Regions from separate parts of the Homo sapiens genome. Here regions 2, 3 and 4 are each linked to region 1. Evidence: fine-mapped expression QTL. A gene starts in region 1. Each other region holds a variant in brackets. All regions are shown on one strand. Distances are between the middles of the regions.

What was found. PIP is the estimated chance that this variant, and not a neighbour inherited with it, causes the effect.
Region 2: its variant is the best candidate, but not a certain one, in a credible set for the expression of ELMO1 in whole blood (TOPMed, PIP 0.52).
Region 3: its variant is the best candidate, but not a certain one, in a credible set for the expression of ELMO1 in aorta (GTEx, PIP 0.57).
Region 4: its variant is the best candidate, but not a certain one, in a credible set for the expression of ELMO1 in liver (GTEx, PIP 0.68).

The regions. Positions count from the first base shown.
Region 1 is chr7:37,447,103-37,451,102 of GRCh38, reverse strand. It overlaps ELMO1 (engulfment and cell motility 1), which reads left to right and starts at 2,239. Exons shown (of 22, transcript NM_014800.11): 1 at 2,239-2,428. RefSeq lists silencers at 2,490-2,539, 2,550-2,599.
Region 2 is chr7:36,981,500-36,989,251 of GRCh38, reverse strand. All of the region lies in intron 16 of ELMO1 (engulfment and cell motility 1), which reads left to right. Among named protein-coding and RNA genes, the nearest start is that of ELMO1-AS1, 12 kb to the left of the region's middle. RefSeq lists a silencer at 2,314-2,608. The variant C/T (reference allele first, on the strand shown) is at 4,299.
Region 3 is chr7:37,355,592-37,363,343 of GRCh38, reverse strand. The region is part of intron 1 of ELMO1 (engulfment and cell motility 1); the gene reads left to right. Among named protein-coding and RNA genes, the nearest start is that of ELMO1, 89 kb to the left of the region's middle. The variant C/T (reference allele first, on the strand shown) is at 4,431.
Region 4 is chr7:37,400,030-37,407,781 of GRCh38, reverse strand. The region is part of intron 1 of ELMO1 (engulfment and cell motility 1); the gene reads left to right. Among named protein-coding and RNA genes, the nearest start is that of ELMO1, 45 kb to the left of the region's middle. The variant G/A (reference allele first, on the strand shown) is at 3,259.

The DNA of each region.
Region 1 (4,000 bases):
ATGTAATCCATGGATATGGGGAGACACTGGATGCCTGAATTAAATCCTAAGGGACTTAGAGAAAGTGGATCAGGAACTTTGGTTCCAAAGATCAACTCCATGTTCCCGCACATGGCCTAACCGTAACACTGTAAAGAATTTCCAGTCTTCCCCTTGCACTCCTATCAACACTGAGATGTATTTGAGAAAAAAAAAAAAAGAGAGAGAGAGAGAAGATCTCAGGCTGTATTGTGTTTGCTAATGGTTAATTACGTAATTAATCTATAAGACTACTTTTTTTTCTTTTTTTCTTTTTTCTTTTTTTTTTTTAAAGGGCAGAGACAGATATTCTTCTGGGAGAAGATGGCTCAAATGAGAGAGACTTGAAGCCATGTCACATGAAGAAGAGTCAGAATAATTGAGGATGGTTAATCCTCAAAAGAGAGTGTTTAGGTAAAATTTGAGGGCTGACTTCAAAGATCTGAAAGACTACTTCATGGAGGAAAGATGTGAAGACCCGGGACCAAAGGTTACAGGGGAGTGGATTTGCATAATTGCTGTGCAAGGAGGGAACAATTATGACAGCTAATGTTTACTGAGTGCTCACCACGCATGCACTAAAGTTAAGGTCTTTATATGCCTTAGCTACAAGGTTGTAGATCAAATTCATACTTATCACTACAAGTGTCTCAGAGCATCGTTAGTAAAGGCTCCATTTACTGACTACTTATTAAATTACTTCATTTAATAGTTGGTGCTATTGACTTTTGTTATTATATCATTACTGTTTTATAGATGAGGAAATACAGAAGTTAAGTTGCTTTCCTGCAGTCACCCTGCTTTAGTTACTGGCTTATAACCATCTGGACCCAGGCACTCTTGATACTAATACTGCCTCCCAGAGTCATGCGTATAATAAGGAGTTAGATCAGAGCTGTTCATTAAAAGTATAAGGTGAGCCACTAATGAGAGCCTATGTGTAGCCTTACATTTTCTAGTAGCTACATCAGAAAATGTAAAAAGAAACTGGTGAAATTAATCTTATATATGCTTATATCTTAACCCAACACATGACGAATCCAACTGACTTACTACATCAGACTATTCTCATGTATTGCAATAATGTAATCAACATAAACATACTTAACAAGTTAGTTTACATTCATTTTAAAAATACTGAATTGTATGTCTGTTTTACACTTACAGAACATCTCAGGGATAGCCACATTTCAAGTGCTCAACAGCTGCCTGTGGCTCTTGAGGGGGAAGATCTTAAAAGGGAGCTTAGTTTTCCACCTTGATTCTGATGCCTCCCTGCCCCCGACTTATTTCCTTTGCCAATTAGAAGAAAATGCCGAACTGCCTTTGACTTTTCCGGTAGAGCCAATGTAGGTATTTCTGAACTGGGGGAGGACAGGTGGTTCGCCTGCAACCCTCTTCCCTCCTGCCAGCTAGGCTGGGAGTTAACGTTTTTGATTTCTGCTTTGAAAATGATTTAAGTAGGTTGCATGAATTAAGTAATTTATTCTAAATATCAAATTATGGGTGGAACGTCTTGCCTTATGCAAAGTTATGCAAAATTAGGAAGTCCCTGGCTTAATTGGTTAGAAATACATCTTGTAGTTTCAATTGCAGGGTTAGTAAATACATAGATGTCGACGGAGAGGGAGGAAACTTTTTTTTTTTTTTTTTGCCACTCTGTCCAAGGGTAGAGGCACAGCGTCAAAACAAACACGTCTTAAAGTAGCGTTCAAACAGCCCACCGAAGTTTCCCCTTAATATCCGGAACCGGTTGCCAAAAATTAAAAAAGGATGTGAAAAGATGCTACTCGCTTTTGGCCTCCCGGAGATGGCGCTATGAGGGTGACGGAGTTAATTAGTGCCTCCAAACGCCGTGTGTGAGCTCATCGAAGTCATGCTCTGCACACATATTATTTATAGCAGATCTGAGGCATGCATGGTGTTTGACATTTCTGTCTTTTAAGTAGGGGGACTTCAAAAAGTCGTGGGCATCCCCCTAGGCAAAGTGCAGTGGGCAGGGACCAGGCAGGGTGCGGGCGCAAGGCGAACGCGCAGACCACGAGTGTCCTGGCGCAGGTGCCGGGGGCGGCGGCTGCAACTCCGCAGCGTCCGCTCGGGAGGAGAGTTCGCGGCTGATCTCCGGATGCCTTGCAGATGCAAAATGTGTCTCTGGCCAGCAGGAGGAAGGAAGAGGAAGTGAGAGCAGCGGCAGCCGGCGGTGCAGCAGCCGGCCGACCCAGAGTGTAAGTGCGTGTGCTGGGGCGAGCGGGAGCGGGCGAGGATGGGCACAGGATAGAGGCAGAGCCACCCACGCCGCCGCGGCCCCACGCTGGGCGACAGAGCCTCCAGTTCCCCTTCAATGGTGGCGGGTCGCCGGAGCTCTGATCGCCGGGAACCCTTGCCGCTGCTGTCCTGCGACCCCAAGCAGGTTCGTAAAGTTTCCTGGGCTGGCGCCGCGCCCCGACTCGCTGACCTCGGCGCGGCAGGGGAGGGGGCCGGGACTGGGGCCGGGAGGAGGCGTCCTGCTCCGGGGGACTCCGGGCGCCGCGGAGACACTTTTGTTTCCTCCCTGGGGGCGCCGCGGCTCGGGCGGGGGTGGCCGCCGCGCTCGGCAGGGTGAGGGCTGCGGGCGCGTCGGGGCGCTCTGCAGTTGGGGAAGTCTGAGCTCCGGGGATGGCGGGAGTGGGAGTGGGAGCGGAGGGAGGGGGCGCTGGAGGTGCGGCGCCCGCGGATGAAGCGCAGGGCCCGGGGCCCGGGAGCCCGCCGAGACATTTCGACCAGGGTCTGCGGGAGGGGGGGCGCGGGAGGGTTGCGACGCTGGCGCGGGGTTACTGGGGACGGGGGATGTGGGGCTGGGATCTTGGAGTCAAGATTCCTATAGAGCTAGAGAAGCGGCTGCGGCTCAGACTCGGCGTCTTCTCCTGCACTCGGGGATGGGAGGGAATCCCCCGGCGAGCGCGCTCGTGGGAGGGGGCGGTGATGGGCCAGAGGAATGGGGGCCAGGAGGGCCGGAGAGGGCGGTCTGGGCAGCCGGGAGCCCCTGAGGTTCTGGTTAGTAAATACTCTCCTCCCGGGGACACACCGGGGTCTCCGCCGAGACCGAGAGAGGCGGCGGGGAGCTTTGTGGAGCTTCGTGGAAATCTCGGCTTCGGAGAGGGGACGCACCGGGCGCGCCTTCAGAGAAGGGGGCGGCGGCATGCCAGGGGGCCCGGGAATCGGAGCGGAGAGTGGCGACTGCGATCGCCGGAGTCGCTTTGAGGAAGAGGAAATACAGAACTCAGCTGTCCCGGGGGTGCGCGCGTGTGTTTGGGGTTGGGAAGTCGGTGCTGTGCCGCGAGCGCGCGCGAGGCGGCGTGTGTGTGTGTGTGTGTGTGTGTGTGTGTGTGTGGTGTGTGCGCGCGCGCGTATGTATGTGTGTGTGGTGTGTCGTCGGTGTGTGTGTGAGTGTGTGTGTGTGGGGGGGGTGTTGTGGGTGTGTGTGTGAGTCGGTGTGTGTGTGTGTGACCGCACAGCCAGGAACTCCCCGCCCAGTGACCCTCTCCCGCCTAGGGGGCCATTTGAAGTTGGAGGCGGGTCGGGACCTGCCTTGACCTAAAGGACCAGCCTCAGGCTTGGTCCCAGGTAGTGACCCAGCTCTGAGAGTCCCTGGACGGCTCCCGAGACTCAGTGAATATATTTGGGATGCCCCCCGCGCTGGATCATGGGCTTCCCAACACCGCTGGCCTTGAATGATTCGGGCCTAATTCGTTATGGTTAAGATTTCAGATAATCTAAGACGGGTTGAGGCCTCCAGAAGCGGAGGCTTCCTGTTGGGCGCTGCCAGTGACTTGGGGATGAAGCTATGGAAGAATATCTGAGTGTTTCTCTTTTGCTTCTATAAAAGTAATTAATGACCTGTATTTACACACCAAAACCCTGCGAGCAACTTTGGGACATAGAGGGATATAATCCTTCTCAGAATCACTTTGAGATTGCAAAAACCGGCAGCAGCTATTATTGG
Region 2 (7,752 bases), 460 kb after region 1:
GTTGCTTAACCTCCTTATGCCTCAATTTCCTCATTTGTGTAAATAGTGTAATAACATCTCACAGAGCTTTTGGGAGAATTAAATTGGTTAATCTAGACAAAGTGCTTAGAATGCACTGGATTATGAACTGCTAGGTTAATTCCTGAATTATTAATTGCTGAATTAATTCTTAATTGCTGGATTAATTCCTGGATTATTAATTGCTCAATAAATGTTAGCTAGATCAACCCAACAAATCACAGATGTCTTGAAATAGATTGTTTCAATCAGGTTTGTATTCTGTTAATCTGTCATTCATATCAGCTGAGGAATATATATCTTGGGTTATGTTGGTGTGTTAGGATGGGCAAGGAGTCATTTAACTGGAGCACTGCAATGCATTGTCATTGCTTGTAGGATAAGAACCAGACTCCTTAACTTGGTCTCTAAGCATCTGCTGGTCTGGTCTTACACCATCCTCCCAGTCATTCTCACTGTGATCCATTCACATTTGGCTTCTTTCAGATTTTCAAAGATGCCATGTTGCCTCCTAGCACACATGTGTTTTGTTTGGGTCACTCTTCCCCTCACTCTCAATTTATTAACTTTTACTCTTCCTTTAGATCATGGCTTGATGTCACTTTCTCTGAAATGCTTTTCCTGATCTCACTAAGTGATTATTTGTGCTAAGAGAACACAGAGTTCATAGCTCTGTTTTTATACTCCATATCACAGTTATGCTTAATATTTTTGCCTCCTCTATTAGAGTCTGCAGGTTGTAAGGCAGAAACCTTGTCAGTTTGTTGTATCACTAGCACAAGTGCCTGGCATAGATACTTGCTAAATATTTGTTGAGAAAATTATTAAATTTTGATTGAGGAAGACTTGGATGGAATGATGGTTTTGGCATAAACTGAGGATTTGGACAGCCTTCAAGAGGATGGGAAGGCAAAGGGTGGGTGTCCCCATGGCAGAGGAGACTAGGCAGGACAGTTAAGAGGAGATGTTCCAGAAAGATGGTAGAGAAAACCTGAGCCATCCACCACCCTGAGGGTGAATGTTGTCTGGGCAGAGCTGAGAAAGATTGACAGTGTTGGCTTTGGGTGCTGTACCTGGGTGAGACTTTCTTCCTACACTTAGTGGCATAAAGAGACAAAATGGAAAGCCAGGATTCATATTCTTGAAGGTACAAATCCAACATCAAGACCAATGGGCGGCCAGGCGTCGTGGCTCCCGCCTGTAATCCCAGCACTTTGGGAGGCCAAGGTGGATGGATCACCTGAGGTCAGGAGTTTGAGACCAGCCTGTCCAACATGGTGAAACCCCATCTTTAATAAATATACAAAAATTAGCCAGGCATGATGGCACATGCCTGTAATCTCAGCTACTCAGGAGGCTGAGGCAGGAGAATCGCTTGAACCTGGGAGGAAGAGGTTGCAGTGAGCCGAGATCACACCATTGCACTCCAGCAAGACTGTCAAAACAAAACAAAACACCAGTGGGCTATAGCTGAGCATTTGGAGTTGGATGGATATGGGGTTTATACTGAGCTTCATTTAGGAAGAAAGGAGGCTGAGGGCGACTGTTGCTGTTTAGACAGTGGATGTGTTGTAGATGGATAGTTCAGCTTGGCTTCAAGAATCAGAAACACACAAAGAGCAGGTCCCAGTCTCCTCAGAAGCCTCATCTGGGTCATTACGGGCTGAGGGTCCCAGGCTTGCAGAGACCTTTAAGGAAGAGAAGGTTCTCCTTGAGGTTGTTATGATGCCAAGGCAGATGACGATAGGGCAGAGAGTAATTCTTTTCTCTCTAACATAAGCCCAAATCGGTGCCTTCTGTGACACTTACCATTTTCCATCAATCTCTGTGGAACTGAGGGCTTCCGCAGACCCCTGAGTGAGATTGCCACCTTATGAGCCCCCTCGAGTCTGACCAGGATGTGCAGCCATTCACTGCTCAGTGGCGACCCCTGCTGCTAAGGAGAGAGATGGCAGCACATTCAGAGTTGGTGACATTAATTCTAGTCATGCAACCCGGGGAATTTGGAGCAAGCAGGGGAGGAGTCTGAGGGGATGAAAATGGGCTGAGGAAATCCAGGGAGATCCCTAGTGTTCAGGGCGCCTTGATGAGGTGCTAATGCAGAAAAGAGCTGGGCCTGAACACTCCGTACTTACAAAATCTTCCACAAGCCGCCAGTGTAATCGCTTCATTCCAAAGGTTGGCTAGGAACCACCGCAGTGCCCTCTGAGGAATACCATTGCAAACTTTAACTTTTATTTGCGGAGCTCTCAGGGCTGTTAGGCAACAAATATTTTTAAAGATACCCCTCTAATTCTCTAGGTTAAAAGTTGCAGTAATTTTAATTAGGGGTAGAGGCTGTTTATGTTTGTTTACATCCTGGGTAGGAATTAGAGTATAAATCCTCCCAGTGGGACCCCTGCTGGGATGCTCTGGAATGCTTGCATTCCTGAGTATGTGAGCACCCCTGGTGTGCATGCCTTGTGTGTACATGGCAAGGTATCGCGAGGTGGTTCTATGACATTTCTGGACAAAAACTGTGTGTGAAGAGAAGGTAGGAGAAAGCAAACTCACAATCAAATAAAAGTAGAGAGAGGGGAAGAGATGAGATTGCAGTTGATTATGGGTCTGGCAGCAGATGTTCTGCACGAATCCAACTCGCTGCAGCCAGTCTGTTTCTATGGCAACAGAATCGGTAATTATTGAGCCCAGGCACTCCCCCACTTCTCCCAACAAGGTGGAGGCTGATGAATATGAACTATCTCCAGCCCATCACCAGCTTTTTCTTTTTCTTCTTGTCCTTATTTGTTTTTTAGTTCTTTATAAGAAAAAGTGGGGGATATATTGAGAAGTACCAAGACGGGGAGCTATGGGTTTATTGACAAAAGAGCATAGGACACTAAAATAGAAACGAAGTTATTATTTTTCTCTTGTGATACTCTAAGAGAAAAGCTCTTCCTGGAAAAGCCGATGATCTCTGAAGATGCTAAATAAATGAGCAGGAGTTTCCCTGAAATGGAGGCGCCCTTTGATTGGCTGATCTTTCCCCGACTCCTGCCAATCGGAGCATCCCTGGGCTCCAGCTCCATAAACATAAGCAAAGCTACATGCTTATTCTTCTGGACTTGGAGTGTATACCATTTAAAGGTGTGCGGCGGGTCTCTGTTCACATGGCTCAACTGGAAACCTGTTTCATGAACAAGCTTACTCAGGAACCATCTGGTGGTATTCCAGCACATTGTTCTTCAGGGGGACGACTCTAAGTCGCTTTGTGGTGGCAGCAGCTTAGAATCAGTATTTGTGGTTGGGAAAGATGGACTTACGGGAGCTTGGTGAGTAAACCTCCGTCTCACACATGTGTCCACCGGTATTATCAGCCTGAGCTAAATGTAGCTTTGTCCTATTGTCTGCCGAGAAAACTGAATTGGAACAAGCACATGGAGGAGCGGGCATTCAAGGGTTCCCATGATGTAGGAGACTCTGAATTCAAAAGACTGCATGCTTTGCTTGGGTCTGATCCGATTTGTAGCTGACTGTACATTATACTTGGACATTGGTTGTCTTGTTAGGATTAGTGTAAGGAGCAGAGTTCTGCTTTATTTCCCTGGGTGTTGATGCATTTCAAGAGAAAATGCTTTTAAAGCTACATTAATAATAAGAGTCAACCCTGTGTATTGCTAGGAAGAGAGAAAAAGGTGCAGGCACGGAGCCCGGAGCCGCTTGATTGTGTTGCTGGTGTTTGCATTGTGAAGAGAGATGTTATTACAATGGTCTGTCAAACACTTCTTCAGACCCCCAGCCACGGAATGAAGCATCTCTTCTCCGTGTGCCACTGTTCTCTGCTTGGAAAATGTGTAACTGAGCTAGGTCATGTCCTTTCCTTTTATGAAACCTGTCTCCAAATTGAAATATGTTTTTTAATTAATTGCAAAGATAAAGTGAAGTGCAATTGGAAAGATTTTAGCAGTCAAAAAGCATGCTTCAAAATGACTCTATTTTGCATCCTTTCAAACCCCTGAAAAACCAGAGAGGGTTTGCAAAGTTATATTCAAGGATTGGCTCTCTGCCAGGAAAGGGATGCTCTGAGCTATTGCTCTGCTCCCTGGGGTTTAATTTTCTGACACTGGTGATGAAATTTTCAATTTCGTTGGGTAGAAACAGGAAGAACAAGAAAGCAGTACTATAAACAGGCAATGGAGGGGCAGCGTGGGGAACGAGAAACTCTTTGCCTGTAGGGACCCTTCTAGCTGCAAACTTAAAAATGTATGTGGCAAGATGCAACCCAAGCACCGAGCAGGATT[C/T]CAGACGAGTTATAATCATTCTGAACGGGGAGAGGAAAGGTAATGCCATTGGCTTGGGTTGCAGAGAGTGGGGGCTGAAGTTGGGGCTTCTATCTCTGCCTAAGATCTTTTCCCCTGATTGTCTCCTGATTTTGAGGATTCATCATGTTACTTTTTTTAAAATGTGATTTCCTGTCTTATGTGCCTGAAAGTGTCATAGCACACTTGATGTCTTCTATTTACAGTCCACTTGACTTCAAATAATGGAGAGAGGAAAAGAGAATGAAGCATCTGGTTTATGAAGAAATGCACATGAAATAGTCAAACAAGAGAAATCTTATTGGTTGTCCTTTTTAAAAAATGTCCTTTTGCACAGGAGAATGCTGTGGGTCTTCACGTGGCTCTAGAATAGAATTTACTTTATCCTAAATGGGACCTGTGATGAATGGTTACAGAAACAGAAGAGCTAGAAAGCTTTCGCCTATAGAAGACTCAAGGCAGGGTGAGGGCGACTGGGTGTCTGGGAGAGACCTTCTACTCTGTCTATTAAAGAAGTAGGGCTGACGTTGCAGGAGAGGGAGAATTTCCTAACTGCGGGTGACAATGCATCAGGGACACCTGGTCACTTGACAAGGTCAGTGACCTGTTTGTTAGCTGAATGCCTTTCTGGAGATGTAGGCTGCTCTCTGATCCCATGAGGCTCCAGATGGCTGGATACATTGAGAATTCTGCCTGACTGGAAGAGCTTGTGTGCATGTTAACTCTGCCTGCTGCACCACACTCCTCAGTACACCTCGATGCTCGATTTTGAGGAAGTCTGGTTTCTAGAGGATGTGCATTAAGTGACAGTCAGCTCGTTAGAGTCAATGTCCATTTCGCCTTGGCCTCTTCTCTCCCCCACTAGTGTCACTTTACATGAGCGAAGTGCTGGCACCTGTTGGTAAGAATGAGAGAAGAAACCAGCTTTTTATGGAAGCAGTAAAAAATGTTTACAAAAAAAAAAAAAAAATCTAAAACAGTAGTTCTTAAGCTATTATTGGATCATGGAACTCTTTAAGAATGTGAAAGCTATGAACCTCCTCTCTGCTCCCCCCACCTAAAAACGCATTCATGCACAAACACATAACACTTTGATAATCAGGCATTTTAGGGTAAAGCAAGATCCCTGTCCTGGGGGAATAGCCAAGAACGTATCATACCCTGAAGTTCATTGTCTCCTTCTTTTCAGATGGGTCCGCTAAATGCTGCAGCCCCATCTCAATCTGTCCTGAGCATTTACTGTGTGCCAGGCACTGCTCAATACATTTTATATGTAGATATAATAATTCATTGAATCTTCCAGCAGCCCTAATGGGACTAAGTTTTTTTGCCTGTTTTAGATGAGGAAATTTAGTCGCCAAAATATTAAGGACCTTGCCGGTGTTTATCCAGCTAGGAACTGACAAGTGTTTGGTGTTTCATGCATGTCGATGTACTTGTTGCTGCATTCATATGTGGAAGGAGAGTGAGTATATAGGGGAAGATGGTTTCATCAGCCTGTCAGTCTGTCAAGTGGAGTCAGACCACAGGTAGTTGAATTAAACAATCACCACAATAATTAAAGTCAAATTGAAAAGGCATTTTGGGGTGGTTGGGTGAATTATTAATAACGCCATTTGGGAAGTTTGAGCTAAGTAAAAAGCCCATCACAAAATGCCCCATTGGTTGCCCCTTTATGTTACTGTGTGATGCACCATCTCATTCCTGTAGCATTTATTTGCCTGGTATGATTTGGGTCAATTTACCTAGGAGACCAGTTCCTTCTGGGCCATCTGGGAGAGGTGACAGGTCACCAGTGTCCCATGGCTGCCCTTTGCTTACATTTGCCAGGAATGATTTGCAGTGGCCAAAGCAATGGCGAGGGTGATGAACAACTAGGAACAACCAGGCAGCCAGTTTGGGGGTTCCCATGAACTGCAATGGCTGTAGGAATCACCAGGACTACCATGCTTTCTCAAGACCTTGTGAGCAGGGGAGGCGGGCCCAGCTCAGAAATAGAAACTGTGTTCGTCAGAGTTTGAGGGAGGATTGATGGCTGCTAGGGCAATGTGGAGCTGGATGGGTGTGTGAATCCTCCACTCCTGGTTCAGCCACTGCATCTCCCCTTCTATCTGTTTTATAAATGGATTCACAATGAAGATGTAACAATAAAAAAGAGAAAGAAGGGGTTAGGCTGCTAGAAGGAAGAATAAAAGCTATTCATCTTATCTAGATGTCTTATCTGACATAAAAAAATAAGCAAGATTGCAATGCTAAGTGGAAAGGAATCTGTAGGGGTCATGGTAACAGGTTTTTAAACATGGGTTCTTGGCTATGCTTGCCTAGTATTATGCACTTTCTAGTATTATACGAGGTATGTAAATGTGTAGAAGACATTTTAACAAGACTACAAAAAATGTACTACAGGGACAATATAGCAGATCTCATTTTACATTGATGCTGTCCAATGGAAATATGATGCAAGTTAAGTATGTGATTTTAATTTTTCTAGTAGTTCACCTGAAAAAAGTAAAAAGAAACAGGCCAGTTAATTTTAATGATATGTATTATTTTACCTGCTATGTCTAAGTTATTATTTCAACATGTATCTACAAAACTATTAACAAAATATTTACATTGAATTTTTCATGTTAAGTCTTTGAAATATGACATGTGTTTTACATTTACAACACAACTCAATTTGGATACTGGATTTTCACAGGAAATCTGTATTTAGATCTCATAAAATTCATAGTTAAAAAAGTAGATTCATGTGCACAAGTTGTTCCAAACATACATCAAAGTTTTCCAATAAATAACTGAATTGAGTATTGGTTTTTAAATTTAAATGAGCTAAAATTAAATAAAATTTACAATTCAGCTGCACAGTCACACTCACCACACTCACTCACCAAGGCTTCCCTAGCCACCGTGTTTAGTGGCTACTCTACTGGATGGTGTGGCACTAGGATCTCAGAACATTCCTTGCACACTAGGCCAGTAACTTCTCTCACTCCATCATCATACCACAGCACCTTTATCTCTTTTACCTCCACAAGGTACCTGGACCACCTGCTCTGGTAACAGAGAAACAGAATGTTAGTATTCACAAACATGTTAACTTTTACTTTCACCGTTGCTCATGGTGAACTCAAGATGGACAGCTAAATCTTAGTTTCTCCATTACACTGTTTGGCAAGGGGGAATTAAAACAGTATGCTGTTTCCTCTTGCAGAAAGTCGGCACTCATCCATCTGTGGCATTTCTTTCTTCATCCTTACTTATCTTGGCCCTGCTATTTACTGTGCTCTCTGGCCCCTCTCTCAACTCAGTATGGAACGTGGGTTTAATTTTAATTATAAACAAACCATAACTGAGAAGGTAACTCTGTTACAAGCAGATAATTCTTCATGAAGACAAGTATAAATTCAGGCTAAGGAGTGATTTAATTGCTATC
Region 3 (7,752 bases), 90 kb after region 1:
TGTGGTTTCGACTTTGGTGGCTATGTAGAGAATAGATCTAAGGGCTCTTGCAAGAGCCCAGGTGGGAAATGTTGGTTTGGCCTAGGGAATGTTTGTGAGGGTTGAGTTGGATTGGTGGTGGCCTGGACATGGAGGGGAGGGAGAAGGACTGTGAAGGACTCCTTGGTCTGGCACAAGCACCTGAAGTCATCAGAGGGCCCTGAAGTTGTCAGAGGGCCCCGAAGTCATCAGAGGAGGCTAGTTCATGCTCTGACAACAGCATCTTCAACATTTCAGGTTACTGCAACAGAGTTTGCTGTCTTGCAAAATCTGCTCTAAGTCCAAGTGACCCTCCAGGGCAGCTGTCCTCAAACTCAATGGTTTAGTCTGCCTTCCATATCAGTACACGTTCTACCAAATTCACTGTGGCAAGGGAAGAGAGAACCTGGCTCTCCAGTGCCTCTGTCACTTCCACTCACATGTCTTTAGCCACAAGAGTCATATGTATGGCTGTGGCCTTATCCTGCAAGGGGGCTAGAAGTGCAGTCCCCTAGAGTGCTCAGAAGAGGGGAAGCAGGAAATCTGGTGTAAAGGTGTACCACAAAGCCATTTTCTAATGTGAGGAATCTGAAGGAAAAATAGCTTCTGGAGGAAAGAGTTCAGTTTTTGATATGTTAAATTTGAGATGCTTGTGAGATACCTAAGTAGCTATGTCAAGTAGGCAGTTGGCTATTTGAGGGAGGGAGGGAAGAAGGAAGGAAGGAATGAAGGAAGGTTGGTTGGCTTGGGTTCAGGATATACATTTAAAATGTATCTATGGGATTGGATGAGACTACCTAGAGGCGATGCCTGGAGAAAGACAAGGACTCAGAAATGAGCCCTGTATTAGTTAGTCTAGGCTAAACTCTGTCGTGGGTCCAAGCAATCTTAAAAGTGCTAGTGGCTTATCACAGGCTTACCCATGCCAGATGTCCACTGGGGGACAGTGGGTGGCCCTGTCATATTATAACTGTACCATCTGAGCAGAAACTTTGTGTTTTGTGTTCAATGTCTTGTGCTCAATACCTAGAAGCATACCTGGTGGGAGGTAGTACCTGGTAATACCTGGCACAAGGATGTAACGGAGAAATTATATATATATATATATCATATACATTTCTATTGAGGTACAATAAAATCAATTTTCATTTAGTGATACTGACCAATGTATGTAGTCATGTAACCATCACAACACAGTCAAGAAACAGACCATTTTACAGCTTTATTTTATTTTTTATTTTCTTCATGCTACCTCGTATAAGAGAAATAGACCAGTTTCATCACCCTGAAAAGTTCCCTTGTGCCCCCTTGCAGACTCTGCTTCCACCTCACCCCTGGTAACCCCTGATAGGCTTTCTTTTTGTGTGTGTGACTGGGTCTCTGTCTCCCAGGCTGGAGTGTGGTGGTGCAACCTCTGCTCACTGCAACCTCCACCTCCTGGGCTCAAGAGATCCTTCCACCTCAGCCTCCCAAGTAGGTGGGACTTACAGGTGCGTGCTACCACGCCTGGTTAATTTTTTTGTCTTTTTTATAGAAACAGGGTTTCCCTGTGTTGCCCAGGCTGGTCTCGAACTCCTGAGCTCAAGCCATCCGCCGGCCTTGGCCTCCCAAAGTGCTGGGATTACGGGCTTGAGCCACTGTGCCCGGATGACATGCTATCAATGTAATTTTGCCTTTTCTAGAATTTTCTAGAAATGGAATCATATAGTATGTTGTCTTTTATAACTGACTTCTTTTATTTAGCGTAGAGATTGGTATACATTTTCTGTAAAGACTCAGATGGTAAATATTTTAGGCTTACAGGCGGGATGGTCTTTGTAGGATCTACCTACTCAGCTCTGCTGTTGGTAGTATGAAATGTGTACTGAATGGGTGTAGCTTTGTTCCAATAAAACTTTGACTACAAAAATAGGGAGAGGGCCGGATTTGGCCCATAAGCTAGAGTGTGCCAATATCTGATGCAGCATAATTCACTCCGGATTTACTTCTATTGTTACATGTATCAGCAGTTTATTCTTTTTTATTGCTGAGTAGTCTTCCATTGTATGGATGACGTTTTGTTTATTCATCGATTGATGGACATTTGAGTTGTTTTGAGCTTTTGGCTTTTATGAATAAAGTTGTTATGAACATTCATACACCTATCTTTGTTTTCATTTCTCTTAGGTAAATCCCTAAGAGTAGAATTGCTGTGTCATATGATAAATATGTACTTAATATTTTTAAAAATGTACCAAACTGTTTTTCAAAGTCTTACTATTTATCAGCAATGTGTGAGAATTCTAGTTGTTCTAAGTTTTTATCATCATAATGAGTGTGTACTGAAGTAAATACTTATTAATATTCAAATGTCAATGGATGTAAATGAATCATTGAAAATGTTGTGAATATTGTCCAGTGTCACTCATATTTTAATGTGAATTTTTTACATGACTCTTATTCTCATAGTTTTGCCATATATTATTAAACTATTTTCTATTCTTTAATCTTAAGGTTTTTATAAAATTTTCCTGAGAACAATGTAGACACCACCTTTGTAGATGGCAGTTAATTCAGTGTTAGACTTACTGATAAGGGGGCAGAGCGCAATTTCTCTTTACACTTTGCAGTTACTGAAAACCACACAGGCCTTACTACTCAGTTGGGCTGAGTATTGGGTTGAAATCTTTGAAATGTGAGAAGCCTAATTTAATCTCACCTCTGAATAGGCAGCCACTTTAGCTCTTCCTGGGTATACCGAGGACTACCCACAGGCAGATTCTGGATTTTTCTCTAAAAAGTTATGCATCTGTTGGACCCCTAGAGTTTTGTCTTTTAAGTGTGTGGCTGAGCTAATTTTTACCTGGAAAAACTTTATGTAGATGTTTGAAATGTCGACCTTGGTGTTTTTTTTTTTTTTTAAAATTTCAGTTAAGTTTCATAAACTTTCATTTTAAGCCGTGTTACTTCCCAGTGAACTCTCTTGCACCTAAGTGAATTGATTTGCTATTTAGGTTCTTTGCCATAATAAGCTCATTAAATGCTGGGGCCTGTTACCAAAAAGTGATTCTTTCAGTTTTGAGTACTTGTTCTGAGGCTGTACTCTGACAGAGCAAGATGTCAATTAAGATTATTCCTTGTTAGTGGAAATAAAATCACCTTATCTGCTTATAAAAGAATCTCTCTGTTCTTTCTCTAAGGGGAGGGAGAGTATATTCAACTCACACAAAGTTTATCCATTCATGAAGTGAAAAGGTAAAAGCTTAGAGGTCATGAAAAGATCCCCGTTTTACCAGAACGGAAATTATGATCCGAGCCAGGGGTATTTTTCCGCAGAGCTGACTCTCAGAGGTAGTATCAAGTTGCAGCTTCTATCACAGCATCAAAAATGGAGTCTCTGTGGAGCTTGAAAATCTCAGGCCATAACTGATTCCTGTCCACAGACTCAAAGTCAGAAGCAAGTTCACCGTGTCGCAGTCAGTATTACACAAGTACAAAGTGAAAAGGTGTGACCGTGATCAATAATGGAAAAGTGCATAAAGCCTTTTTCTTCCCTGTGAACCAGCCTGGATTTGGCTTTCAGAGTCAGGGATAATGTGCCACGCTCTTACTCGGTGCCGGGCACTGTTCTAAGCCTTGTGCATATTAAGGTCCAAGGAAGTTTAGGGTAATGGTTCAGAACACTGCCTTCGGATGGGCTAGATTGCTGACTAGCCAAATAAGTGACCAGTTTCCTCAGTGACTCCATCTACCCATGTTTAGGGTGGGGATTATGATAGCGCCTTTGTCACGGGGCTGTTGTGAGGACTGAATGTGTTAATCTATGTACACTCTTTAATAGGGTACCTGGCACAGGGTAAGTTATATAGGTGTGTTGGCTATTACTGTCATTTTAGTACTCATCCTAAGAAATTGTTGACATAGGTACTGTGGTTTGCTCCATTTTACAGATGAGTAAACTGAGGCACAGAGAGGAATTTTCCCAAAGCCACAAGGCTAGGAGGTAGTGAAACTAGGATTAGAATACAGACAGTCAGAGTCCAATCAGTGGTTGTTAACTGCTGTATTCTGCTGCCTTCCTGCTTATTAGGAGAAAATGGCTGTGCATTTTTAGATGTAATCTGCAGTAAAGCAGATAGTCCTGCAAGGAAGGAGTAGGAAGGCTGTATTTGGCACTGACGGCTTGGACTTTACCACTGGTTCCTCCAGATGAGTCTCTACACCCATTGCCTTGATACAGGTCAACAAATTGGCAGAGAGTCCATCTTCTATTTGGAGTAGTCCTATCTCAGTAAATGACATCACCACCTATTCTGTTATAGAAGCCATAATCCTGGTTCGTCAATGACTCCAGCTTCTCCCTGTTTGTCTATTATCAATTGTTTTGATTTTTTAAATAGCTTATAAATCCATCACCTTTTCTGTCTCCACGA[C/T]CACTCCAGCCCAAGTCACTGCCATCAGTCACTTTCTTACCAACCTACCCCGTCATCCTTGCCCCATGCCAGTCTGTTCTTCATGTAGGCAAAGGTAAAATGCAAATCTGGTCAGCTTGTGCCCGGGCTTAACACATTACCTGCTTTTACATTCCAGTCCAGGTCTGTCTGCCTCCAAAGCCTGTTCTCTTTTTTTTCCCCATATTTCCTCTATAAAGTTTGTAGGAGTTTCAAATCAAGGCCGAGAAAAGTAAGATTTGAAAGGCTGAGAAAAGTAAGATTTTTTAGGTGTCCAGTGGAATCTGGTTTTCTTTGACCTTTCTCATCAAATTCACACCTCAGATAACTAGGCCCCAGAATCTGTACCCATTACCAGACCTGTCAGCAGAACTCAAGTGTTCCAGATGGGTTTATAATATCTGGTATTTTTCTGGGCAATAAGATGCAAGATGGCCTTCTCTAATTTTTTTCACAATTGCCTTCATCAGTCTAGCTAGGGATTTGTGTGTCTGTATTTGTGTACTTGTTTTTATTGTCATTAGTTTGGTTTTGGCACAATAGAGTCCTTGTCAAAGTGGATATTATTAGCAGGTTGAGTTTCAAGTTTGCTAGAACTGAATGCAGATACAAAGCATTTGAAATTATCAGTATACTGTTAATGGAGGCTAGAGGAGAAATCAAAGTAAATTTTCAGAAGTATGAAATTAGCAAACTGCCAACACAGGGTTGGAAGTTTCTCTATTTTCCTCTTACCAGCTTTTAATCTGGTAATTTCCCAGGGAGTACAGACAGGCTGTGGGGAAGCTCTCTGCCCATGCTAACTTGAGGGGAAAATGAGCATTAAAAAAACAATTCATTCAGAATGCCCTGGGATACCAGTGAGCAGATCAGCAACCCTAGGATGTAATCAATAATATTGGCTTTCAGAATAGAACCACAGACCACTTTCCCCCCAAATATGCACCACAGACTGCCATTCAGCACCTCAGATCTTATTTATCTATGCATTTGAGCAGGAACAAGTCTTTTTGTTCTTAAGCATGGCCCACTGGCTCCACTGTCATCTTGATGTTTGTGTGAAAAGCTCTCACAGTATGGCCGTATGGCCATGCTGATAGCATGTACCCTGACTGTGTTTTATCTTAAACCAAACTGCAGCAAACATGTGAGGCAGCTCAGATAAAAACTAGAAGGAAGAGATTTTATCATAAAATCCAGGGAGTTTTGGCAGAGCCTCCTAAAGTGAAAGAGATGAGAAGGAAAAAATCTATAGGTTTGTTTGTCTTACTAGTGAGGGTAGGTTTGTGGCTAATAACTAGAGAGATAAAATATCTACAGCACTGAAAATGGGGGAAATTTGTTTTTTAACTGCATCTTTCCTGAGAAACATTCTGAGGTTCTGCTGTTTAGAGCCATGATAAGACAACCCTAGGAATGAAGCTGAGTAATCATTATGTCTTAGTCTCCACTAAAACCACAGCTTCTGGGGGGCAGCTGGGCTGAGGTCTCGCCAGCAAAGCTCATTAGGCCCCAGGTGGATTATGCCTACTATAGCAGGGAAGGGTGTGATACCTGTGTTCAACCATCATATGGGCCACTGTTGACACTCCTGAAACCAAAGACAGGTTAGCAAGCGAAAAGCATAACACATTTATTTAATATAAGTTTTATATAACATGGGAGCCTTTAGAAACGAAGACCAAAAGCCCCAGAAATGAAGACCCAAAGCCCCAGAAACAAAGACCCAAAGCCCCATAACTATTCTTATGTTTAGGCTTGATAAAGAATGGACAGCCATATAGAACTATGATTGGACAAAGGGTGTGACCTAATGGCAGTATGACTGAGGAGGAACCTCAGCAAGGGCTGTTGGTTCAGATTCTTATTGGTCTGTCTGTGTAGCATGTCTTCCTCCTGGATATAGGGCAGGACTCCTCTGGAAAGAGGGTCTTTGGGGAGAAGGAAGAAGGAAGAGAGTGACCTTCCTAGGTTTCATGGTTTACTTTGGTGGAGATAGGTTCTAGTTTCTATGACCCACTTTGTGGAAGAGGATTTTTTTATTTATTTATTATGCTTTTATTAAGAAATGCTTAAAGGATTTTGTGAATTTGTCTTCCTATCCATTGATCATTTTTCTTTTCTTTTTTTTTTTTAATTATACTTTAAGTTCTGGGATACATGTGCAGAATGTGCAGGTTTGTTACACAGGTATACACATGCCATGGTGGTTTGCTGCTCCCATCAACCTGTCATCTATATTAGGTATTTCTCGTAATTCCATCCCTCCCCTATCACACGGGCCCCGGTGTGTGATGTTCCCCTCCCTGTGTCCATGTGTTCTCATTGTTCAACTCCCACTTATGAGTGAGAACATGGGGTGTTTGGTTTTCTGTTCCTGTGTTAGTTTGCTGAGAATAATGGTTTCCAGCTTCATCCATGTCCCTGTAAAGGACATGAACTCATTCTTTGGAGAAATAGGAATGCTTTTACACTGTTGGTGGGAGTGTAAATTAGTTCAACCACTGTGGAAGACAGTATGGTGATTCGTCAAGGATCTGGAGCCAGAAATATCATTTGACCCAGCGATCCCATTACTGAGTATATACCCAAAGGACTATAAATCAATCTACTATAAAGACACATGCACGTGTATGTTTATTGTAGCACTGTTCACAATAACAAAGACTTGGTACCAACCCAAATGCCCATCAATGATAGACTAGATAAAGAAAATGTGGCACATAGACACCATGGAATTTTGTTTTTTATGAGTTGCTTCAGTGGGGAAAGAGAGATGGGAGAAAGGAGAGCAGTAGAGGTCAGAGAGACCTTGGTTCTGAGACCTTCCAGTCTTCTTTAGTTCAGAGTACTCAGCATGCCAAAGCTCCATACTTTGGGGTATTGATTGTTTTCTAAGCCCTAACACTACCCTCTGTCTAGTTGCTGGGAGGATCAGACAGAAAAGGACAGATGTCACTCTGCAAGGCTGGAAGAACATACAGTTGGTGAAGATGTGCAGTAATAGTGGGGCAGATCCCCCTCTGTGCAGAAGCTCCCCTGTGAGCCTTCTTAAAGCACTCAGCCACCTCATAACTCAAGATGACATCCATTTCTCCTTGCGGAGAAAGGATTTAGAACAAGTTGAGTCCTGGTCACCTTTGTGTTCTCAGAGAACTTTCCTGGAGGACTAGACCTGTGGTCAGGAGGGAAAATGGTTCTCTTATTTTCCATCAGGGCATCTGCTCAGGCAATTCTCTGTGACTTCCTGCCTTTGCAAATGTAGGTCAATCCTTCCAGAATCTTACCCTAACTTTCCCCCCTC
Region 4 (7,752 bases), 45 kb after region 1:
GTTCTATGAGATTGAACGAATGCATAATGCCGTTTATCCACCATTATTCTGTCATACAAAAGAATTTTACTGTCCTAAAAATCCCCTGCAGTCCACAAATGCATCCCTCTCTCACTGCATATTGCTGGCAACTACCGATGTTTTTATTGTCTCTATAGTTTTGCCTTTTCCAGAATGACATATAGTTGGAATCAGTCTGTGGCCTTTTTAGGCTGGCTTCCTTCACTTAGAAATAGCACTTAAGATTCATCCATGTTCTTTTTTTTTTTTTTTTGAGATGGAGTTTCACTCTTTCGCCCAGGCTGGAATGCAGTGGTGCAGTCTCAGCTCACTGCAACCTCCGCCTTCTGGTTTCAAGTGATTCTCCTGCCTCAGCCTCCTGTGTAGCTGGGATTACAGGCACCCACCATCACGCCTGGCTAATTTTTGTATTTTTAGTAGAGACGGGGTTTCAGCATGTTGGACGGGCTGGTCTTGAACTCCTGACCTCGTGATCTGCCCACCTCGGCCTCCCAAAGTGCTAGGATTACAGACGTGAGCCACCGCGCCAGACCCTCATCCATGTTCTTTCATGGCATGATAGTTCATTTCTTTTTATCTCCCAATACTGTGTCATTGTGTGGATGTACCATTGTTTATTCACTCACCTGTTGAAGGACATCTTAGTTGCTTCTGAGTTTTGTCAAGTATATGTTAGGCTACTGTAAACATGCGTGCAGATTTTGTATAGCTGTAAGTTTTTTCAACGCTATTATAAATTACCAAAGTGTTCTCCACACAGGCTATATTAATTTACCCTCCAATTCAGCAGTGTATGTGATTCTGTTTACTACAAATTCTTACTGACAGTTAATACTGATGAATTCTTTCATCTTTGCCTATCTGAAGAGTGAATGTGGGTATCTATCTTACTGTTATATTAATTTATATTTCCTGATTATTAGTGAGTCATACCATTTTAATCTTGGAAGGACCTTTGAGATCCTCTAGCTAATGCTATATTTTAAAGATGCAAAAAACAAGACTAAGAATATTTTCTTGGCCTGGTGCGATGGCTCCCGCCTGTAATCCCAGCACTTTGGGAGGCCGAGGCGGGCAGATCACAAGGTCAGGAGTTCGAGACCATCCTGCCTAACACGGTGAAACCCCTCCCCCGTCTCTACTAAAAAAAAAAATACAAAAAAATTATCCGGGCGTGATGGTAGCTGCCTGTAGTCCCAGCTGCTTGGGAGGCTGAGACAGGACAATGGTGTGAACCCGGGAGGCGGAGCTTGCAGTGAGCCGAGATCGCGCCACTGCACTCTAGCCTGGGTGACAGAGCAAGACTCTGTCTCATAAAAAAAAAAAATTTTCTTACTTCCTCACTTTCATTTTTCTTTCCTAAGAATATGTTTTTAGTTTCATTGCATTATGCCCCTCATTGTTGTGGCTACTGAGTTCAGTGTCTCATCCAATGGAAATCTTTCATATTTGCCATGAGGGTGGAATATATACAAAGAGAGAAAAAAAAAAAACAAAAGAGTAATATTGCAGATTTCTCCCTTGCACCAACTGCAGATTTTTCACTTGTACCATCTTTATTTTCACTAACAAGAAGCTTCTGTTTCCCAAACTAATTATACACAGGGCCTGAACCAGCGTGAGTACTCAAGCATTCCCATGAATGATGGAATGAACCCTAAGATGCAAGGAGTGGGAGATGAGGTCTGCTTAACGGCTTGAAAATACCCCTAGATCCCAGTGGTATCTCAGCTCTGCAGCTTGAGCTTGACTTCTGATTCTGCCTGTAGCTGCGGTGGACTGGGAATTACTGATAAGGGAAGCAAGTGTTGACATTTTCCATATTAGGATGGGTTCTCCAGTGAATTCTGACCCATGCTCTCGTGGTCAGCTCTCTTGAGGCCAACTTTCCAGAGGCTAGCTGTTGGGACCAGCGGAGTTGACCTCTGGGGCGGGACAGCATATGCACTGTCCTCTGAGGCTAGCAAGTTCAAGACACTCTGGTTTCCCCTGGAAAGCCTTTGGAGTATCGGAGGAGGATTGGCTGGGCTGATTCAGCCAGTCTGTATTTTAACTGCCAGGGAATGAATAAGCCTATCTTTCTGACTCCCTCCTTCCCATTAACAAGCCCGACGCCTTGAGTCCCAGGAAGCATGCCACACATGACTTCAGTGTCCCGTGCACACAGAAGTTTAATTGCTTTGTGATTGCCTAAAATGTGAAATGAAGGAACACATTGCCTATAAGGATAACATTTGCGATTCTGTGCATTTCATTTCATCACACATATTTGTGTCAGTTAAAGCACACGGAAGTGTGTTTGCTGTACTTAAAAGACCTATCTGGATTTTGTGTTTCTCCGTGATTTGGAAGAATAACTGCAGATAAGCAAGCTCTGGGTGTGACAGACAGACATGGGGGCAGAGGTGAGACAAGGTGGAGTCTGGGGCGTGGGGAGGGGGTCGGAAACATTGGGCATTCCAGGAGGAGGGAACAATATGTGCAAGGGCTGGGACCTGCAATAAAGCCTGACCTTTTTGGAGGAATTCTTAGGGTTTTTTTTCCCCATTGTTGTTGTTTTGGTCTTGAAGTATAAAAAGCATCCATGCCTTATTCTTGGGAAAGATTCATTCAGATAAAATCCCATTGTCACTCAAAGTTATGCTTTCTCACACGACCATTTCAGTCCCCCAGTGCCGGTGGCCCACATTACCACTGCTTCATTGGTCTGGCCACAGTGACTTCTCTCCTGGAAATGATTGCTCAGCAAACGCCTTATTCTGGCAAATTTCAGAGCCCATAGTTACAATGAGGACTCCTGATCATGAGCTGTTTGCATTTTATTCAGAAAAAAATTAAAAATGGGGGGAACAAAGAGGGGAAAGGATGTGAGCCAAGCAATAGCTGAATGTTTTTTAAAAACTGGATATTTTGTTTTTCATCAAGTAACGATTACCCAGTTGCGACCACAATCTATTTAGAACTAAAAATTTAAGCCAGCCTTCCAAGCCCCAAAGAAAACTATGGAAAAAAAGATCCAGGAAACTTTTGGTACTGGGGTGTAGTATCTCCTTTTTATGCTAAGTTTGCAAACCTTGCTACATTGCCACAAAGAGGAGGAACATCTCAACACTGATTGGCATCTGGGCCTCGCAGATGGGGTGTGTTTCTTTAAACAGTGTCTTGGTTATAGGAGAACCTTTATTGGAACAACCTGAAGGGCCCAGGGAATTTATTATATACCAGGTTGTTACTTCC[G/A]TTAACATGGAGAAGCATCTAAAGGATACATTGTTTGTCAGATATGTCAATATCAAAGGTTAAAAATAGCGTGGGACCTAGGGATGCACCAGAAAGCTGTGCCAATGGCGGGGAGTGGCCATGATAGGACCAAATGAGAAAGAGCATAAGATACCCATAGAAATCATGGCGCACAGTCACCTGTATGAGACAGCATGCAGTGTGCATGGGAGAGGCCTGCCACACGGAGTGAAGGTGGAAGGGGGAGCCACCTAGACATTCAGAGATGGGTCTTGGTGGTATGGGAGAGGGAGTGGACCAGTGAGGATGGAAAGTGCTGGCCCAAACCTTCCCATGCATACCTTAAAATGAATTTCTTTCTGGACTGATTAGAGAGAAAAAATGATTACAATTTTAGGGATTCTGTTTCCCACCCCTCATTTTCTCTTGCTTTTTTTCCCCATTAATATATTTTATTTTTTAGAAGTATTAGATTTACTGAAAAATTGACTAGATAGCACAGTGAGTTCCAATATATGCCTGCTATCCACACAGTTTTCCCTATTATCAGCATCTTGCATTAGTGTGGTACATTTGTTATAATTAAACTAGTATCCATTATTATGAATGAACAACAACAGTTCATTAAGATTCACTTTTTGTGTCGTATGTTCTATGGGTTTTGACAATTGCATAATGGGCTGGGCATGGTGGCTCATGCCCGTAATCCCAGCACTTTGGGAGGCTGAGGTGAGAGGATCACTTGAGGCCCGGAGTTCGAGACCAGCCTGGGAAACATAGTGAGACCCCCATCTCTACAAAGAATAAAAAAAATAGTTGGGTGTGGTGATGTGTGCCTGTAGTCCGAGCTACTCTGGAGGTTGAGGTGTGAGGATTGCTTGAGGCCAGGAGGTCAAGGCTGCAGTGAGCTGTGATCATGTCACTGCACTCCAGCCTGGGTGACAGAGTGAGACCCCTGTCTTAAAGATAAATAAATAAATGAGAAAGACAGTTGCACCGTGTCATGTAGCTACTGTTACAATATCATACAGAATAATTTCACTGCCTTAAAAATCCACGATGCTTCACCTATGCACCCCCCTACCGTCCTCCTGGCCTCCAAACCCCTGGAAACCAGTGATTTTTTTTCAGAGTTGGGGGGATTTCACTGTGTTGCCCAGGCTGGTCTCAAACCTTGGCTTCCAGTGATCCTCCTACCTCACCCTCTCAAAGTGTTGGGATTACAGGTGTGAGCCACTGTGCCAGGCAAACCACTGAACTGTTGACTGTCTTTATAGTTTTGCCTTTTCTAGAATGTTATATAATTGGAATCATACAGGTATTTAGGCTTTTCAGACTGGCTTCCTTCACTTAGAAATGTGCATTTAAAACTTATCCATGTCTTTTTGTGGCCTAATAGCTCATTTTAAAAATTGCTGAGTAATATTCTATTGTGTATCTATACTACAGTTTATTCATTCGTCTATGGAAGGACATCACGGTTGCTTGCAGGTTTTGGTAAATAGGAAGAAGAATGCTCTAAACATTTGAGTGCAGGTTTTTGTATGGACATACATTTTCAACTTGTTTGGGTAAATACCTAGAAGCATTATTGCCAGATTGTATGACAAGATTACGTTTAACTCTGTAAGAAGGTACCAAACTATCTTCAAAGGTGGTTACATCATTCCCCCTTGCTTTTTTATTTTCCATGTGACTGTAGTTTGGGAACAGAAATTAAAGATAATATGTGGAAAAATGCAGGTACTACTTTTAAGGTGTAATACCCTGATTCTGAAATATCCAGAGAAGTGTGTTCTACTGGGTGAGATACAGACTAACAGTGTCCTTTAGTATAAGGATATTAATTGTTTACTTAACCAGAAGTCAGGGATCAGATGGCTTCAGATTCATTAAATAGCTCAAGACTGTCCTCAAGGATCCAGACTCTCTCTCCCTCTACTCTTCCATAAGTATGTTGGCTTTCTGTCTTCTGCTCATACTTCATGGTCTTAAGATGGCGGCTGTAGCACCAGGCATCAAGTTCCCAAACACTTAGGAAGAAAGAGGAAGGGGAAACACCAAGAGCTATCCTTCCATTTTGTTCCTTTTTTCAGAAAAGTGAACACCCCTTTACCCCACGAAAAACCCAGCAGATTTTCTCTGATGTTTTACTGACCCCAAATGGGTTCTGTCGTCACTCTAGCTGCATAGAGGCCAGGAAACAGTAATTTAGAGTCTCTCTAATTTCTGCTCATGGTTTCTTCCTGTAACGATATTCTCACTCACAACCTGGCCTCATCCATTTATCAAGCAGAATATTGCTGGAGCCACTTGTAACTTTTTGTTGCTGTAGGGGAGGGGAAATAGCTTCTTCCCACTCATCAACAGGTTCATGACTGAGGCCCCTATAACAAAAGACAGATTGACAATAGAAAAGGATACACATGTATTTGATGTAAGTTTTACGTGCCACAGGAGTCTTCATAGGGAACGAAAGACCTGAAGAAGCGGGTAAACCTGTGTATTTTTATGCTTAGGTTTGGTGAAGAGTAGACAGTCTTAGAGATGTATGATTGGACAAAGGAGCTATCTGTGATCTAATTGTAATGAACTGTGAGAAATTTAGCAAGGCCTGTTTGATCAGGTTCTTCTTCTCACTTCTATGTCTTCAACTCCTTTCCTTTGGGTATAGGGAAGGAGTCTCTCTCATATGGCTTGACTGTGTGCCCACCCAAATCTCATCTTGAATTGTAGTTCCTATAATCCCCACATGTCATGCGAGGGACCTACTAGGAGGTAATTGAATCATGGTGGCAGTTACCCTCATGCTGTTCTCGTGATAGTGAGTGTATTCTCACAAGATCTGATGGTTTTTTAAGGGATTCTCCCCTGCTTTTGCCTGAATTCTTCTCCTTCATGCCGCCTTGTGAAGAAGGATGTGTTTGCTTCCCCTTCTGCCATGATTATAAGTTTCCTGAGGCCTCCTTAGCCATGCTGAACTGTAAGTCAATTAAACTTGTTTCCTTTATAAATTACCCAGTCTTGGGTATGTCGTTATAGCAGTGTGAGAACAGACTAATACACTGTCTCCTGAGGCTCTTACAAAGTGCTTCAAAGAAAAGTCAGAAAATCCTTCCTCGATTTTATGATCTGCTTTAGGAGAAAAGGGGTGAGGGGAAGGTAAGAGTGACCTTCCTGCTTCTGCTGTTTTCTCAAATGCCAAGGTGCCATGTTTTGGGGTGGTAGGTCCTGAACCCATCCCTTCAATGTCCTTATTTTATCTGTGCATGAGGGCTGAATTATTCCATCACTTTCAAACTGTGTTTTATGGAGCCCCATATTTCTGACATGAGTGTAGGCATCTCTGCAGGGAGAGTGAATGGGATTTGAGAGGGCAGGGCTCTGGCTTCCCACTTCTTCCTGGACAAGCTTACCTTCACTTACTTAAGCTTCCTCCCAGTGTAGGGTTCCTAGGGGTTTTCCTTTGAATTAAACTTCTGCAGATAAAATTAAGGGTGAAAGCATTCAGTCAGGCGGATGTCTCTTTCAATTCTAAGAGTCAAACTTTTGGACCAAGATGAGACAAGGCTATTAGTCTTGTCCTAAGTCCTTTGCAAAATCCCTAGGATTTTTTGCCTTGAAAACTGTACCAAATACCCATATTGTGCACAGGTTGGAAGAAAATTGTTTTTTCTTCTGTCCTAAAGAAAAAGGAATTTCTTTGCCATTTAAAAAGCAGTTTAAATCCTAGCTCTTCCTTGTCAAGTTGATGGTCTGGAGCGGGGAGATAAGAAGATGGCCATCAGTCTAAGTGTTATTCCTAAAAAGTAGAAGTTTTGATCTTTCCTGGTATCTCTAAATGGAATTTATCAAATATTCTGGAGTAACTGAAAGGGGTGATCTGTATTCTCTTCCACCGTTTCCTAAAGCTCTCACATGTTTATGTGAAATTTGTGGACTTTTCAGATGGGCATTTAATATACGATATAGTATTAATTTGGGTTGGAAAATGTTCTGGGCTTTTAAAGTATATCTTAGTTAAAATGCTTTGTAATTTGCATATATGCCCTGAAGTAATTTTATGGAATAGAAAAATACATGAAAACAAAAACAGAAACTAGGTCTGTGCTGAATTTGCTGTTGGGTGAAGCTGACTTTTTTTTTAAATTTTGAAATAACTCCAGTGGCTTCATGGTCCACACAGCACATTGTGATCTATGGACAGTGTACCGATGCGGATTCTGCCTGCCTGATCCTGGAAGGCACACTGGCTTTCCAGGCTTGTTGGTGCAGTATTTAAATAAATGAGCCCTGCTGTGTGCGAGACAAAGGGCCTCTGTACTAACTGAGCATATGCTATCTGATGTTCTATATTTACATGTGTCATCTCATTTACAATGTATAACTCCCTCCAAAATAAGTGTTATCCCATTTTGCTGTGAAGACAGTGACACATCAAACTTGTACCATATTAAATAGCTAGGAAGTGTCAGAGCTGGAGCTAAAGTCTCC